Homo sapiens: one gene and its partner. The protein of the gene in region 2 purifies or fractionates together with the protein of the main gene of each other region. This does not show direct contact. Each region holds a gene or a part of one and is shown on either strand. Other genes may lie near its edges.

Region 1 (7,496 bases), on a different chromosome or scaffold from region 2:
ATTTTACAAAGCACTTTCACGAACACTATCTTTTCTGATCCACATTAACAATCGTGGGAAGGGCTTTATTTAATCAAATGGCTTCTGGTTTTATAAAGAGTTAATTCAGGGCCGGGCGCAGTGGCTCAAGCCTGTAATCCCAGCACTTTGGGAGGCCAAGGCAGGTGGATCGCCTGCGGTCAGGAGTTCAAGACCAGCCTGGCCAACATAGTGAAACCTTGTCTCTACTAAAAATACAAAAAATTAGCTGGGCATGATGGCAGGCACCTGCAATCCCAGTTACTCAGGAAGCTGAGGCAGGAGAATCGCCTGAACCGGAGAGGTGGAGGTTGCAGTGAGCCGAGATCATTGCACTCCAGCCTGGGAAACAAGAGCAAAACTATGTCTCAAAAAACAAACAAAAAGAGTTAATTCATTGACTAAAACAATTCTGAAATCACAAAGATAATTACGTATTTGTTCATCTTTGAGATAGCTTCTCCCTGGGACCTCAGTGTTCTCATAAAACTCAGACGTTTTGTTAGCATTTTCTTTGCTTGCTCTCCATAATAGGTAGGACTCACCCTGCTCTGAATCTTACTCAGGGTTTAAACCACATAAAGCTGTTATTAAAGACCCCTCTAGAAATCAGACAAGAAGAAGCATCCTAAGCTATTTTTTTTCTGATCCTGTTCTTTTTGTAACTAAGGTAAGGAATTGCAAAGGTCAAAATCTGGAGAGCAAATGATGTCATGGATGTCATGAAGTTGCATCAATACCTGATGATGATTTAGCATAACAGTGCAACATATTATGCCAAGAAGCATAATGATGAGCCACCAGGATGTTTTACTGCATTAATTTCATGACTCTTTATTAGCAAATTGATATGCAAAGTAGCTCTCCAATTTTCTACCACAGAGAAGCTGCTGGTTCAGATTTACATCTTTAGCAAAGACACTAAGAAAATCGACAAATTTCTATGGAAAAGTCTTTGATTTAAAAATAGAAAAGGAGGCTGGGCACGGTGGCTCAAGCCTGGGGTGGGGCAGGGTATCGCTTGAGACCAGGAGTTTGAGATCAGCCTGGGCAACATCGGTGAAACCCCGTCTCTACTAAAATTACAAAAAAAAAAAAAAAAAAAAAAAAATTAGCGGGCGTGGTGGCGCACACCTGTAATCCCAGCTACTCAGGAAGCTGAGGCAGGAGAATCGCTTAAACCCAGGGGATGGAGATTGCAGAGAGCCGAGACTGTGCTACTGCACTCCAGCCTGGATGACAGAGTGAGAAACTGCAAAAAAAAAAAAAAAAAGAAAGAAAGAAAGAAAGAAAGAAAGAAAGAAAGAAAATGGTCAAATAATAACCTAAACAGTTGTCATTTTAACAATGAAAAGCTTTTTAAGATACGCAACATGCCTATGGATCAATGTAGATTGAATCATCTATTTATACTGGCTTGTCAAAAGCAAACAGTTACTGGGTATAAAATGACAACATACAATAGAAAAGACACCCAATCAGATTACACACGTGAATACACTCAAAGTTAGCAATTTAACACAGCATCACTAATGGCCATAAGATATACAGACTTAATTCTAAATATTCAATTCTAAATGATGGTACTTCCCCCAAATTTTCCTTGCCTCTTTAAATCCATGATGTCATCATTCTTAAGCAGAAGTAAAGCCAATTTGTTACAAAAGATATTTTGGTGTGTCCAAGCAAAAGCAATCGCCTCAACAATTCTGCATAGCACAAGTTCAGTGAAGCCATCATTCCTCAAGAAAGAGACCACAAGGCTTCAAACCGACTTCCCTACATGACAGAAACACAATCGAAGTCTCCCAATTAGCATTTAAACAGCAATAAAAGTTGTTCTCAAAAAGGAACAACATAGTTTCAACGTCGGGGCCAGCAACTGCCAGCAAGTAAAACTGGTAATGTGTCAGAATCTTCATCTAGATCGATCAGAATCCCACCACAGAAAAATCCAGACTCTGGCAATTAAGAAATGAGGCTTTTATTTTCCTAACAGAAATCGGGAGATTTAACAGACAAAGCAATTGGTTATTCTGAATCTTAACAAACCGAAGGTTTCAAACGAACTCAGCGCTGAAGTTACTCTGCAGCGACCATCAAGATCTCACAATCGTTTTCTCTTCGCTTACAAATTCGTTCCCACCCTCCACCGTTCCCTTTGCACACACAATTCTCGCCAAGAGAAGCCTTCCACAGTCACAGCATGGATTGCTGTCTCAAGCAAGGAGATCCGCAGTTCCCATTTCTCTAAGGGAACACTCAACAAGCTAGGGGATAGGAAAGGCCTTTTGTGTTTTATTTAACGTAAACCAATTCCAAAATTATCCCTTTGCAGCTGCAGGTTCAGAGATGCTAGCCCCCAGCCGCAGCCCCAATTTTGATGGGCACCCGACCCCCGACTCCTCTCTCGCAAAGGAGTGAAATGTTCGGAGGAGCGATGAAAGATTACCTGACACCCTAAAGCCATCCTTGCCCGGGCCACACACCCCTTCACTGCCCGGGTGAGGGGACGAGAACCACCCTGCTGAGGAGAGGGGGTGGGTTCGCTCCCAACCCAAGGGCTGGCTGGAAAGGAGCTGTCCTCCTCCTCGCCTCACTCGAGGACGGCGATAGCAAGTCACCCTGCCCAACCAGGACCGACCCCCGCGTGGGATACGGGGCCTGCGTCAGACCCCGGGCGCCCGCTGCCCCTTGCCAGTCCCGGGCATAAAGGGCAGAAGGCGCCGGCTCCCCTCTGCGGCCCGGGGAGGAGGAGAGGCCTCACCTGGCCCAGCCCGCTCCACGCTCTCGGGTTCGCTCCGCTGGCGACGGTAATGAGGGAGCCAGGGACAGGGCCAGAGCAGAGGCGCTCTGCCTCAGGCCGCGACAGCCGTGCTCGGGGCTCCTCACAGCTGGCGGGACCCCGAGCCGCCCGGAGCCGCCATCTTCCTCCACTCAAACGCCGCCGCCGCCGCAGCTGCTGCTGCTCAGGCCGGGAGAAGACAGCGCAGAGCGCGCATGCGCCGGGGCGGGCGCGGCGGACGCGCGCGCACTCACGTCAGCGCGGCGGGATGGCGAGGGGCGGCCAGGGGGCGGCGCAGTGTTGAGAAAGGCCGTGGTCACAGGCCGAGGTTCTGTGGAGGGTGGAATGCGCTCGGGGGAGCTAGGCCTCCGCACCCGCCTTCGCCGCGTCTCTAGCGTCGACCTGATAGCCGCACCCACCCTCCGCTGCACTGTCTGGGGCAACTGGGTGGTTTTCCCGGTGGTTTGAGACTAACATTTAGCCAGGAATTAACTCACTTCTACCCCGAGGGCCCGATGAGCAGAGAGGGCTGTGGCGGATGTGAGTGCTCTTGGATATCGCCAAGGGGAGGGAAACTGTGCTTGAGGTGTGCAGGAGAAGTCTTCCCTTAACCGTAGCCTCGTAGCAACCACTGTGAGTTCTTACTAGCTCCACTTTTCAGATGAGGAAACTGAGGCACAGAAAACGATCACTTATTTGCCCGGAGTCACACACCTATCAGTGGAGGTGGGGCGGCGCGGGAAAGAGGATTTAAACTCAGGCTTGTCTGGTTCCCAAGCTCCTTTACTTCCTACTAGCTAGGTTATAGGATCCAGCAAAGTCCCCCTTCTCAAGGGAGCAACCTGGTGTGTAGGTGAGAACCTTCATGAGCCCAGCCCTACAGCATGTGGTCTAAGGAAATGCCAGATACAGAGTCAAAGGCTTCAGTCTAAACTCTGTAAGCCAAAAAAACAAAACAAAACAAAACAAAAAACTAAGCCCCCACCCCCCCCCCAACACCAAACCATCTGAACGGACTTCCTCCTAGGCCAGGGCAGTCTAAAATGTAACCAACCTGAGAGACTGGTTCAGGCCATGACGGGAAGCAGGACATGAGACATGCCTCATTACATCCTTCAGCATTGACATCAACACAACAGACCTTAAGACTGGTAAGAAACATTTACAATCTGTTCTCTCTGGAGCCCACCTGCCACTTGGAGGCTTCACGTGCGTGATAAAACTTTGGTGTCCACAATCCCTTATCATAACCCAGACATTCATTTCTATTGATAATAACTTTTTTTTTTTTGAGACAGGGTCTAACTCTGTTGCCCAGGCTGGAGTCCAGTGATGAGTTCTTGGTTCGCTGCAACCTCTGTCTTTCAGGCTCAAGCTATCCTCCTACCTTAGCCTCCTGAGTAACTGGGACTACAGGCGGGCACCACCATGCCTGGCTAATTTTTCCATTTTTTTTGTAGACACAGGGTTTCGCCATGTTGTCCACTCTCATCTCAAACTCCTGAGCTCAAGTAATCCACTTGCCTCGGCCTCCCAAAATGCTTGGATTACAGGCGTGTGCCACCGCACCAGGCCTATTGATAATAACTATTTCAACTCATTGCCAATCAGAAAATGTTTAAATCTGCCTATAATGTGGAAGCCCCCACTTCAAGTTTCCGGTCTTTCTGCACCGAACCAATGTAGTTTTTATTTATTTATTTACTTATTTTTATTTATTTGTTTATTTTTTTGAGACTGAGTCTTGCTCTGTCGCCCAGACTAGAGTGCAGTGGCACCATCTCCGCTCACTGCAACTTCCGCCTCCTGGGTTCAACCGATTCTCCTGCCTCAGCCTCCCGAGTAGCTGGGATTACAGGCGCCCGCCACCGTGCCCAGCTAATTTTTGTATTTTCAGTAGAAAATACAAAATTCAGTAGAAAATACGGGGTTTCACCATCTTGGACAGGCTGGTCTCAAACTCCTGAACTCGTGATCCACTCACCTCGGCCTTCCAAAGTTCTGGGATTACAGGTGTGAGCCACGGCGCCTGGCCTTTTTATGTATTTATTGAGACAGGGTCTCACTCTTCGCCCAGGCTGGAGTGCAGTGGTGTGATCTCCACTCACTGCAACCTCTGCCTCCCAGGTCCAAACGATTCTCGTGCCTCAACCTCCTGAGTAGCTGGGATTACAGACATGTGCCACCACACCCAGCTAATTTTTGTATTTTTAGTAAAGACGGGGTTTCACCATGTTGGCCAGGCTGGTCTCGAACTCTTGCCTCAGTTGATCCACCCGCCTCGGCCTCCCAAAGTGCTGGGATTACAGGCATACGCCCCTGCACCTGGCCCTGTATTAATATATCTTAAATGTATTTGATTGATGTCTCATGTCTCTCTAAAATGTATAAAACCAAGCTGCTTCCCAACCACCTTGGGCACATGTTCTCAGGATCTCCCAAGGGCTGTGTCATGGGCCATGGTCACTCATATTTGGCTTAGAATAAATCTCTTCAAATATTTTACAAAGTTTCCTCCTAGGAAATCTCATGGGGCATAGGGCTGGGCCAGAAGCCAAGTTCCCCTCAAGTTGGAGGGCAAGGCCTCTTTGAGCAGACTTGGGTCACCCTTACCCATAGAGAGCTGTATGAGCCAGAGGCGGTGGTGCATACTTGTCAGCCCAGCACTTTGGGAAGCCAAGAGGGGAGGATCGCTTGAGCTCAGGAATGCAAAACCATCCTGGGCACCATAGCAAGACCCCATCCCTACAAAAAGTTGAAAAATTAGCTGGACATGGTGGCATGTGTACCTGTAGTTCTAGCTACTTGGGAGACAGAGGCAGAGGGTTGCTTGAGCTCAGGAGTTGGAGGTTGCAGTGAGCTATCATCACCTCACTGCACGCCAGCCTGGGTGATAGAGGGAACCCATCTCAAATAAATAAATAGAAAGCAGTATATTCTTACGTTCTTCAAACCTGAATAATGCAAAGTCCCCTAGGGATACACTCAGGGAATCCCAGTGGGAGAAACATTGATTTAAGAAAATCATGTTTTGGCCAGGCGCGGCGGCTCACGCCTATAATCCCAGCACTTTGGGAGGACGAGGCAGGCGGATCACCTGAGGTCGGGAGTTCGAGACCAGCCTGACCAACATTGAGAAACCCTATCACTACTAAAAAAAAAAATACAAAATTAACCAGGCGTGGTGGCACATGCCTGTAATCCCAGCTACTCGGGAGGCTAAGGCAGGAGAATTGCTTGAACCCGGGAGGTGGAGGTTGTGGTGAGCCGAGATCGCATCATTGCACTCCAGCCTGGGCAACAAGAGCGATACTCCCTCTCAAAAAAAAAAAAAGAAAGAAAAGAAAAGATAAAGAAAATCAAGTCTTTCAACTAGGAAATTTTACTGCAAAAGAGAAATTGGGCAATTATAACTGGTAAAGGAAATATTTTTAAATCTGGTTTTTAAATCTAGTTTTTAAATCATGTCATTAAAAACCTCAAGCTTAAAAATTACTAGAACTGAGCCGGGTACGGTGGCTCACACCTGTAATCTTAGCACTTTGGGAGGCCGAGGCAGGCAGATTGTCTGAGCTCAGGAGTTCGAGACCACCATGGGAACAACATGCTGAAACCCTGTCTCTACTAAAGTACAAAAAATTAGCCAGGCTTGGTGGTACACACCTGTAATCCCAGCTACTCGGGAGGTGGAGGCAGGAGAATTGCTTGAACCCAGGAGGTGAAGGTTGCAGTGAGCTGAGATTGTGCCACTGCACTCCAGCCTGGGCCACGGAGCGAGACTGTCTCAAAAAAAAAAAAAAAAAATTACTAGAACTTGTGACCAACTCCACTCTTCCCCCTCCAAATATCCTGTAGAGCTCAATATTGGAAACACTGGACCAGCTATTAAATGCTACTTTTTTTTTTTTTTTGAGGAAGGAAGTTTCCAACCGGGCTCAATCAATTCTTCCACCTCAGCCTCCAGAGTAGCTTGCATAGTCCCAGATACTTGGGAGGCTGAGGTAGGAGGATTGATTGAGCCAGGGTGTTTGAGGTTGCAGTGAGCTATAATCACTCCACTCCAGCCTGGTGTGACAGAGCGAGACTCTGTCTCAAAAAAAAAGTAAAAGTAACAAAAAAAAGTAAAAAAAAAATCCTAGCACTTTCGTAGGCCAAGACAGGTGGATCACTTGAGGTCAGGCGTTCAAGACCAGCCTGGCCAACATGGTAAGACCCCGTCTCTACTAAAAATACAAAAATTAGCCAGGAATGGTGGCATGTGCCTGTAATCCCAGCTACTCGGGAGGCTGAGGCACAAGAATCACTTGAAACTGGAAGGTGGAGGTTGCAGTGAGCTGAGATCATGCCACTGCACTCCAGCGTGGGTGACAGAGTGAGACTCTGTCTCCAAAAAAAAAAAAATAAGTAAAAGTAAAAATGCAGGTTCCATGGCCAGTTGCAGTGTTGCACGCTGGTAATCCCAACCCTTTCAGTGGCTGACATGGGAGGCTGACTTGAGGCCAGGAGTTGAGATCAACCTGAGCGAGATAGCAAGACCCCATCTCTACAAAAATAAATTAAAATGCAGGTTCCAGGGCCCACCTCAAACAATGGCCTCAGACTTTTCTGAAAGCTCCTCAGGGATTCTGTTGAGCAGTCAGGGTTGGAACTGCTGGACCATGTTAGAATACGTTCAAATACAGAATCACTTCAC
Region 2 (7,760 bases):
AGAACCATGAATGAAACTTAGGATGAAACTCTATTTCATAAACCATTAAACCCTGTACCCTTTATAGTAGAGGAGTTTACAAAGATAATGACACCTTTGTATTGCGAGTTCATTCCTTTATTCTGTTATTAAATCCTGGCTTGTGTGGAACAGAAGCAACTCACTACAACAATGCCAGCCTGCGTTGCCTGGCAGCGTGAAGCGAGATGGGAAAAGTTGTTACGTGTCTTATTGGTGATGGCTGGACCATTCACAGTTCGTTGTTTTCACCCATCCATTCCTTAATTCATTTATTCACTCCATGTGCATATATATGAGTCCTCATTACATCACCTGTAAAATGGGCATAGTAATATTACCGTAAGCAAAAGGCTGTTTCAAGAATTAAGATAATCTCTATAAAGCGTGCTGCCTAGCACATAGTTAGTCCTTAAAATAATAGTTATAATTAAAAGAGTAATTACAAAAGCCACATGGTCAAAAGACAAAAATGGTCCTTTTCCAGCACTAGCTATGGGTGGAGAGGGTAAAGTTGCATCTGAAAGGTGAATTAATTCTTGAGGAAGAGGCAGATTCCTCAAATAAAAAACTGAAACTTGAGGAGATGGATCTCAGAGAAAAGAAGGAGGCCTGGACCCTCAGTCTGGGTGAGGAAGCATCAGGAGGGCTAGGAAGGCATTGCTGGGTAGTGGATGTCAAATAGACCATTGGGAATGAAGAGACAGAGAAAAGAAATTCATATGAAACGGAGTGGAGTTTCTAAGTTCTGCAGAGCAAGCTATGAACAGTTATGGTGCAATCCAAGCCTTATCCATTGATAGGCCAGCCTGGTTAAATGCCCTGTATTTTCCGTGTTTATTTTTCCATTGTTCTTCCTTACTATTGAACAAAAGTTTCTGTCCAAGTTCCTGCCTGTCTCAACTGTGCTCAGGACACACTGGGGACTCTGTTAGAAAGGAGCAGTCAACCCTGGCCCGAGTCGCGTGGCAACAGGAGTCACAGCAGGAGTTCCCTTGGAGACCAGCAAGCCCAGGGAACCCCCTTCCACAGCTAATTTGGGATGAGCTGAGCTGAGAATATTAGGAAACTGCCATTTCCTCATAACCTGTTGCAATTCCAGTATTCTGTGTGACCTAAAAACTGGGTTGGAAATCCTCCTTAACACAGATACAGAACCCAGAAGCTGTAGAGGACAATATCAACCGATTTGACCGCATAACAGGTAAAAAACAAAACTGAATGACAAGCAACAGACTGGAAAAAAATCTTCACAAACTGTAACATATTTTAATATATTCTATTATAATATAACAAAAAGGAATATCCAAAATACATAAGGAGCTCTTATAAATAATAAAAAGAGACAAAACTAATGGATAAAAGATATAAACAGGTAATTGCAGAAGAAATAGATAGACAAAATGCCTATCTTCAGTAGTAATTAAGGGAATACAAGTCAGAACAAGATGGCGTTTTTTGCCCATTTTATTGACAACAATTAAAAATATAATATTGAATACTGGGAAAGGTGAAGGGACATGGGCAGTTTCTTCTACTCACGCTGAGAATGTAAACGGGTAGCGTCTTTTTAAAGGCCAGGTTGAGGCCCGGCTCTGTGACTCACCCCTGTAATCCCAGCACTTTGGGAGGCTGAGGTGAGTGGATCGCTTGAGCTCAGGACTTAGAGAACAGCCTGGGCAACAAGGCAAAATCCTGTCTCTACAAAAAATACAAAAATTAGCCAGGCATGGTGTTGTGTGCTTGCAGTTCCAGCTACTCAGGAGGCTGAAGTGGGAGGACTGCTGGAGCCCTAGAGGTGGAGGTTGCAGTGAGCCAAGATCTCTCGTGCCACTGCACTCCAGCCTGAAGGACAGAATGTAAACCTGCCTCCAATAAATAAATAAATAACAGGTTGGCAGCATCTGTATTTACAGTATGCCTACCCTTTGTTATGACAATTCCACTTTTAGGAATCTATACTATTCAAATATGAGGATACGAGGATGTCAATGGATCATTTTAACAGTGAGAAAATATTAATAATATCTAGCATTGATTGAGGGCCAGCACATTTCTAAGCACTTTATAACAAATATTGTGAGGACCCCGAGACACAGAGGAGTTAGGTAACTTGCTCAGGGTCACATGGCAAGTGTGTGTTTGGGGCAGGATTTTGGCAATTGTTTCTTAACCACTATGCTCTCGAATAGAGAATAATTACAGTGTGGCACATCCAAACTGGGGAGTAGAGGACAGCAGGTAAGCGGAATGAAGCAGATCTCTGCCTATAGACATGGACACGCCTCTAGGACATATTAGTAATGAAGGGAAAAAACCAAGTTGCCAAACACCATGATATGGTATAATTTCATGTCTGTGGGGAAAAGGTAACATGTATCTATAATACATATGTATGAGAATGGCCAAAGGCCTTGAGTGATATAAGAATGTATGTGGAAATATAGTCAGAACAGTAAATTTTAGATTATGTTCCATATATTTCTGGTTCGTTTGAACTTTTACAAGAATGCATTTGTGCATTACTTTTGAAAACAAGAATTGTTGTACTAACCTCCTCCTTACCCTTACCCCATCCTGCAAAAAGGTTTAACTCATATCAACAGATTCATTTTCTCTTCTTCCAGGTAGACAATGGGATAGGTCTTGGGTAAAAATCTTCTGTACCATGGCTTTTTCTGGTCTATATAAATAAGTATATGTAGAACATGCCCAGGATATATATCTTGTTGATCACTACTCTTAAAATAAGGTTTTCATGTTCGGTATTTGGACCATGGCTTCCTGTTATTCCACCAAGCTACATACAAATATACAACCAGTCAAAATTAATTTGGAAACTGAGAACCACAGTGTTTTTTTTTTTTTTTTTTTGAGACAATCTCACTCTGTTGCCCAGGCTGGAGTGCAGCGGTGTGATCACAGCTCACTGCAGCCTTGGCCTCCTGGGCTCAATGGAGGAGGCCTCCAACTCAGCCTCAGGGGGAGCTGGGACTACAGGCACAGGCCACCACGCCCCGCTAGACAGAGTGCTCCTTTTGCCTTGCATATTATTTTGTCATCAGAAAAATAATCCATAATCATAGATTATCTCATTATTTTGCTCCAATGCATAAGTGGGAGTGTCTAGCTCCCTCTGTTCTCCTGGTGGCCTCTGTGGAGGTCTGAATGAGTAGCTCAATACACAGACTTAAAGGACTCTCTGGATGTGAAGTCAGTGTTACTATCTGAAAGGGAAAAGCTGCATTGGATGGATCATCGGGGCCTCTTCCTGCATGAGTCCAGCTAGGGGTGGTTTTAACTAACCTAAAACCAAAGAAGAGGCTCCAACTAATCCAATGGTTTGGATCAAAATGCAACTTTTACAGGGCTGGGGCTTCACCCTATCTTCGGGTTTATCTCTGACATGCCAGGGAGACAGTTCTTAACATTCTTATTACTTAATGGATATCAGATTGTTGCTTTTCGGAGTGGTTTTTCCATTTTTTGAAATTTAATTTGTTCTTAAGTATCTTTACAGAAAAAAATCCCATTTATTTAAGAAGTACTGTATTCTCTGGTTCTTATAGCTGCTCATTTTACATAGTTTTAGTGTGTACAAACGATTTTTTTTGTTTCATTTATTTCTAATATACCTTCTCATGTACTTGCCAAAATTTCATGTTTGACACAGTCTGCATACCTGCCAGGATTCTTGCTGTTAATGTGAAGGCGCCTGTTTGGGTTACTCAATTGTTGGACAACTGGGCCCATTCCCAGGTTTTGGTCATCACGAACATTGTGAATAGCCCTGCTGTTAACATCTTTCTGCAAGTTCTCCCCCTTCTTCGCCCTTTGGATCATTTCCTTGGAAATGTACTTCCTTAAATGGGTTTACTGGGTCAAAGGGGCTCTATGAACGGTTTTATAGCTCTTGGCACATAATTTTCGGATTGCGCCCTGGGCGGATCTAAGCGATGGCACCGGCCGCCGAGAGGGCAGGAATGCGGCGGAACGGTCCCGATAACCACCCCTCTTCCGCCCCCCAAAAGGAGAAGACCCCGCGAAGGCCTGCGGCTGGAAAGCCTTTTTCCGGTGCTCTCCCGTTCTCTTGAAGTGGTTAGTGTCTAAGCCGGGCAGAAACGCTTTCAGGATCCCAGGCCCTCCTGCCCCAGGACTAGGATTCCACCCGCCTCCGCTAATTCGGAATCCCAGACACCCAGGGCCCCCTCTCAGGCTCGCCTCGAAACCCCCGGCCCTGCGGCCCCTCGCGGGCGCCGAGCTCGGTCGCTATTATTTGGGCGCGGGTGAGGCGAGGCCCGCATAGCTGCGCGCTGAGTCAGCGGGGGCCGCGGCGGGGGGCGCGGCCGGGCTCCCCCCCAGCGCACGGTGCGCTGGGCCCGGCGTCTGGGGTTCCGCCTCGGGGCCGCGGGGTAGTCCGCGGGGTCCGGCGGGAGGGGCAGGGGGCGCGCGGAAGGACCCGGCCTGGGTGCGTCTCCCCTCCCCCAGCAGGAGCTCGGCCGTGACCGCGCGCCCGGCTATTCGCCTCAGAGAACCTCGCCAGGGGGAGGAGGCGAGGGCGGGCGAGGAAGGGGCGCAGAGGAGAAAGCGGAGCGGGACAGACGCAGGAAGGGAAAGAAAGGGAGGAAGCGCGGTGCGCGGGGCGGGGCGGGGCGGAGCGCGCGCAGGGCCGGCGGGGACGCGCGCCGGCGGCTGCGGGCGGAGGGGCTTGTGGGTAGCGGCGGCGCGCGGCCGGAGACGGGCGGCCGCGCGGGAGTGTGTGCGCCGGGAGCTGGCTGAGGGACTGCAAGGCGGCCGGCGGCGACCATGGCAGCGGGCCGGCGGCGGCCGTAGTGGCCCAGGCCTGGGCTTCAGCCTCCCGGGGCCCCAGAGGGCGGGGCGGTCCGGGCCGCGGCGGTGGCGGCGCCACTTCCCTGCTCCCGCCCGAGGACTCCTGCGGGCACTCGCTGAGGACCAGCGGACCGGCGGCGCGAATCTGACTGAGGGGCGGGGACGCCGTCTGTTCCCCGCCGCTCCCGGCAGGGCCGGGCCGGGCTGGGCCGGGCTGGGCCGGGCGGGCCCCTGGGAGCAGCCCCCAGGCGGGGGACCGCCTTGGAGACCCGAAGCCGGAGCTAGAGGCAGGCGGTGGGCCCGGGTGGAGTCCCGGCCGGAGCTGGTGGTTCGGGGGCGGTGCTAGGCCCCGAGGCTGCGGGACCTGAGCGCGAGGAGCCTGAGTGCGGGTCCAGCGGTGGCGGCATGAGCCGGCCCCCGCCGACGGGGAAAATGCCCGGCGCCCCCGAGACCGCGCCGGGGGACGGGGCAGGCGCGAGCCGCCAGAGGAAGCTGGAGGCGCTGATCCGAGACCCTCGCTCCCCCATCAACGTGGAGAGCTTGCTGGTAGGTGGCCGGGGCCTGGGAGCTTGCTCGTTGCAGCTCACACCTCAGATCCCCTCTCCGCCCAGCCCTCCGTGCCCGTCCGCCCGTGGGGAGGGGGAGGTCTTGCCCCACCCCGCCCTGCTTCCGGCAGCCGGGGCCGGAGACCAAACGATTCTGTCACCGAGTTCCAAGAGTAGTGACCCGCCTTTGATTCCTCCCTCTACCTCCTGCTGGAGCCAGTGTCATCCCCGGCTGCTCCTTTCTTGCAGCACTGGGAGGAAAACACCCCTCTTCTCCTTCCGCCTGCCCACTCTGGGGAGGTGGGTGGAGGACTGGCCATGCTTCATACACCAGGTTAGCTGATTTGAAAGTGTCATGCTACGTGGGGACTTGGTGCGAGCGAGGGAGAAAGAAACCTGATGCTGTCCCTGTTGCGAGTACTCACTGGGGTACATGACAAAGAGCCGCCCTCACTCTCTCCTTTTAGTCTGAAATCTTGGAACACACAGCTAAAGTTTTGCTGTTTTCACTTGCGTTTGAGCATTCCATACTTGCTATTTAGTGCATTTTAATTGCTGTAAATTTAATTCCCTGAGATTATTGCGCCAGAGCCAAAAAATCAGTCTGAATTGTGGAGTGGAATAAATCTGTCCTCTTCATTGCGTCTCTTTCCTATAACGACCTTTGAAATCCAGATTAATAGCACCGTAAAGGCTGCTAATTGGCTCTTGGTTAAGAAAGGAGCATGTTTTACAAAATAGAAATGCACCGTAGAATGCTGGCTTATTTCTTATTTTTGTTAGGATAGATGATTGTATTTCGCAATTTGAGTAGTGTGCAGTGTAGATGCATTTATGGGAAAAGGGGGTGTGGACTTTTACCCTGGGGAGGGGAAGAAAGGTGAAAACGATACTCTGTGTATTAAATTGACTCTGGAAGACTAGAACTAGGGTGGGAGGTCCTTAGATCCGTTAGACATTCTGTGCTGGAATGCAGATGTTTAGTTCTATTCCCTCCTGGAATAAACCTTACTGTATGATGAGAAAAACTGCCTCCTCCCTTTCCAGGGACGGACGGACTGGCTTTTGGTCAGAGGCGGTTGGTTATCCTTTGAGGTTTCAGGCATCGTTTGCAGAGTGACTCAGTCCTGTTTGGTCAAAATGCAGGAACTGACTTTAGCTATATAGTGTCTTTCTGCACAGTGTACAGAAAGTAATGAATGATGTGCTATATTGTGTCACATGTGTTTGATGTTTTACTGTTTTTCGGGTTAATGTGTTGTTCCTATGTTTTAATGGGAGCAGTCTTTGAAAGTCTTTAATCGGGAGTAAGATTGCTTGCATGGATGGCATAGCTTTTCCTAGGCTAAAGCGGAGACTCTGGGCTGCACTCCCAGCATTTTCACTTTGGTATTTTGCTAGCAAAACTTTGACCTAAGGCCAGAAAGTTTAGTTAAAAATAGTACAGCAAATCTCAAGTATTCATCAGGTTCATGCTAAATCCTAGATGGAAACGTTTTGCAATTCACTTTGATATCTTAGATCTTTAATGATATTAATCATAATTATTAGAGTTATTCTGAGCTTGAATGTAAGTAGCTTATACATGTAATATGATCATGCATTTTGTTTTATTGCTTTCCAAATTATTAAAATGGAGGCTATTTTTAAAAGTGAAACATCTCACATGTTCAGGACACAGTTCATTCATTTAGCAGTTATTACAGCCAAAACACACTTTTATTAAGGTGGCACATTACGGATCTGAGAATTGACATCAGGTGCTGATGACTTGACAGACTCTGTTATTGCTGTTTCTAGTTGGTTAAATATGCTTGAGGTGCAGTAAACCTTTCCAAGCCAAAATGCGTCCCTTATTCCTTTGGAGCAAGGTTCCTGGTGTTTCTGTTACAAATTGATAAACGAAATTTAAAAATTTTTTTATAATAAATTAATTTTAAATTACGCGTATTTTATTTATGAACTACTAGAATGGATTTTTTATTGTGGTAGCGTATACAGAATTTACCATTTTTAACCATTTTTAAGTGTACAGGTTAGTGGCAGGCATTAAATACATTCACATTGTTGTGCAGCCATCACCACTATCCGTCTCTGGAATCTTTTCATTTTTCCAAACTGAAACTGTAAATTAATGTTTAAAAGAATGTTATAAAAATTATATTTCCTGAAATACTGACGAAATAATGGCTGGTATCACTTTAAAGATCTGAAACCTTAGCATTTAGGTTGCATTTCACTATTGGTCATTGTTTTACTGCCTATGACATTTATTTTTTGGTTTTGCCATGGGAAATACATATTTTGTCTTTAACAGAAAATTTAAAGGAATATAATTTAAAGCAAACACAGCTGCGACACTACATT

Evidence for each region.
Region 1: the proteins of ROCK2 (region 2) and FBXO42 purify together in Homo sapiens (affinity purification with mass spectrometry; 2 studies listed by BioGRID and IntAct, with this or other methods). This does not show direct contact.

What each region holds. Positions count from the first base shown.
Region 1 is NC_000001.11:16,349,470-16,356,965, forward strand, and holds the start of FBXO42 (F-box only protein 42), read right to left. Parts: upstream 3,012-7,496; 5' UTR 2,786-3,011; intron 1-2,785. UniProt on the Homo sapiens protein: Substrate-recognition component of some SCF (SKP1-CUL1-F-box protein)-type E3 ubiquitin ligase complex. Specifically recognizes p53/TP53, promoting its ubiquitination and degradation.
Region 2 is NC_000002.12:11,341,630-11,349,389, reverse strand, and holds the start of ROCK2 (rho-associated protein kinase 2), read left to right. Parts: upstream 1-4,753; 5' UTR 4,754-5,253; coding exon 5,254-5,394; intron 5,395-7,760. UniProt on the Homo sapiens protein: Protein kinase which is a key regulator of actin cytoskeleton and cell polarity.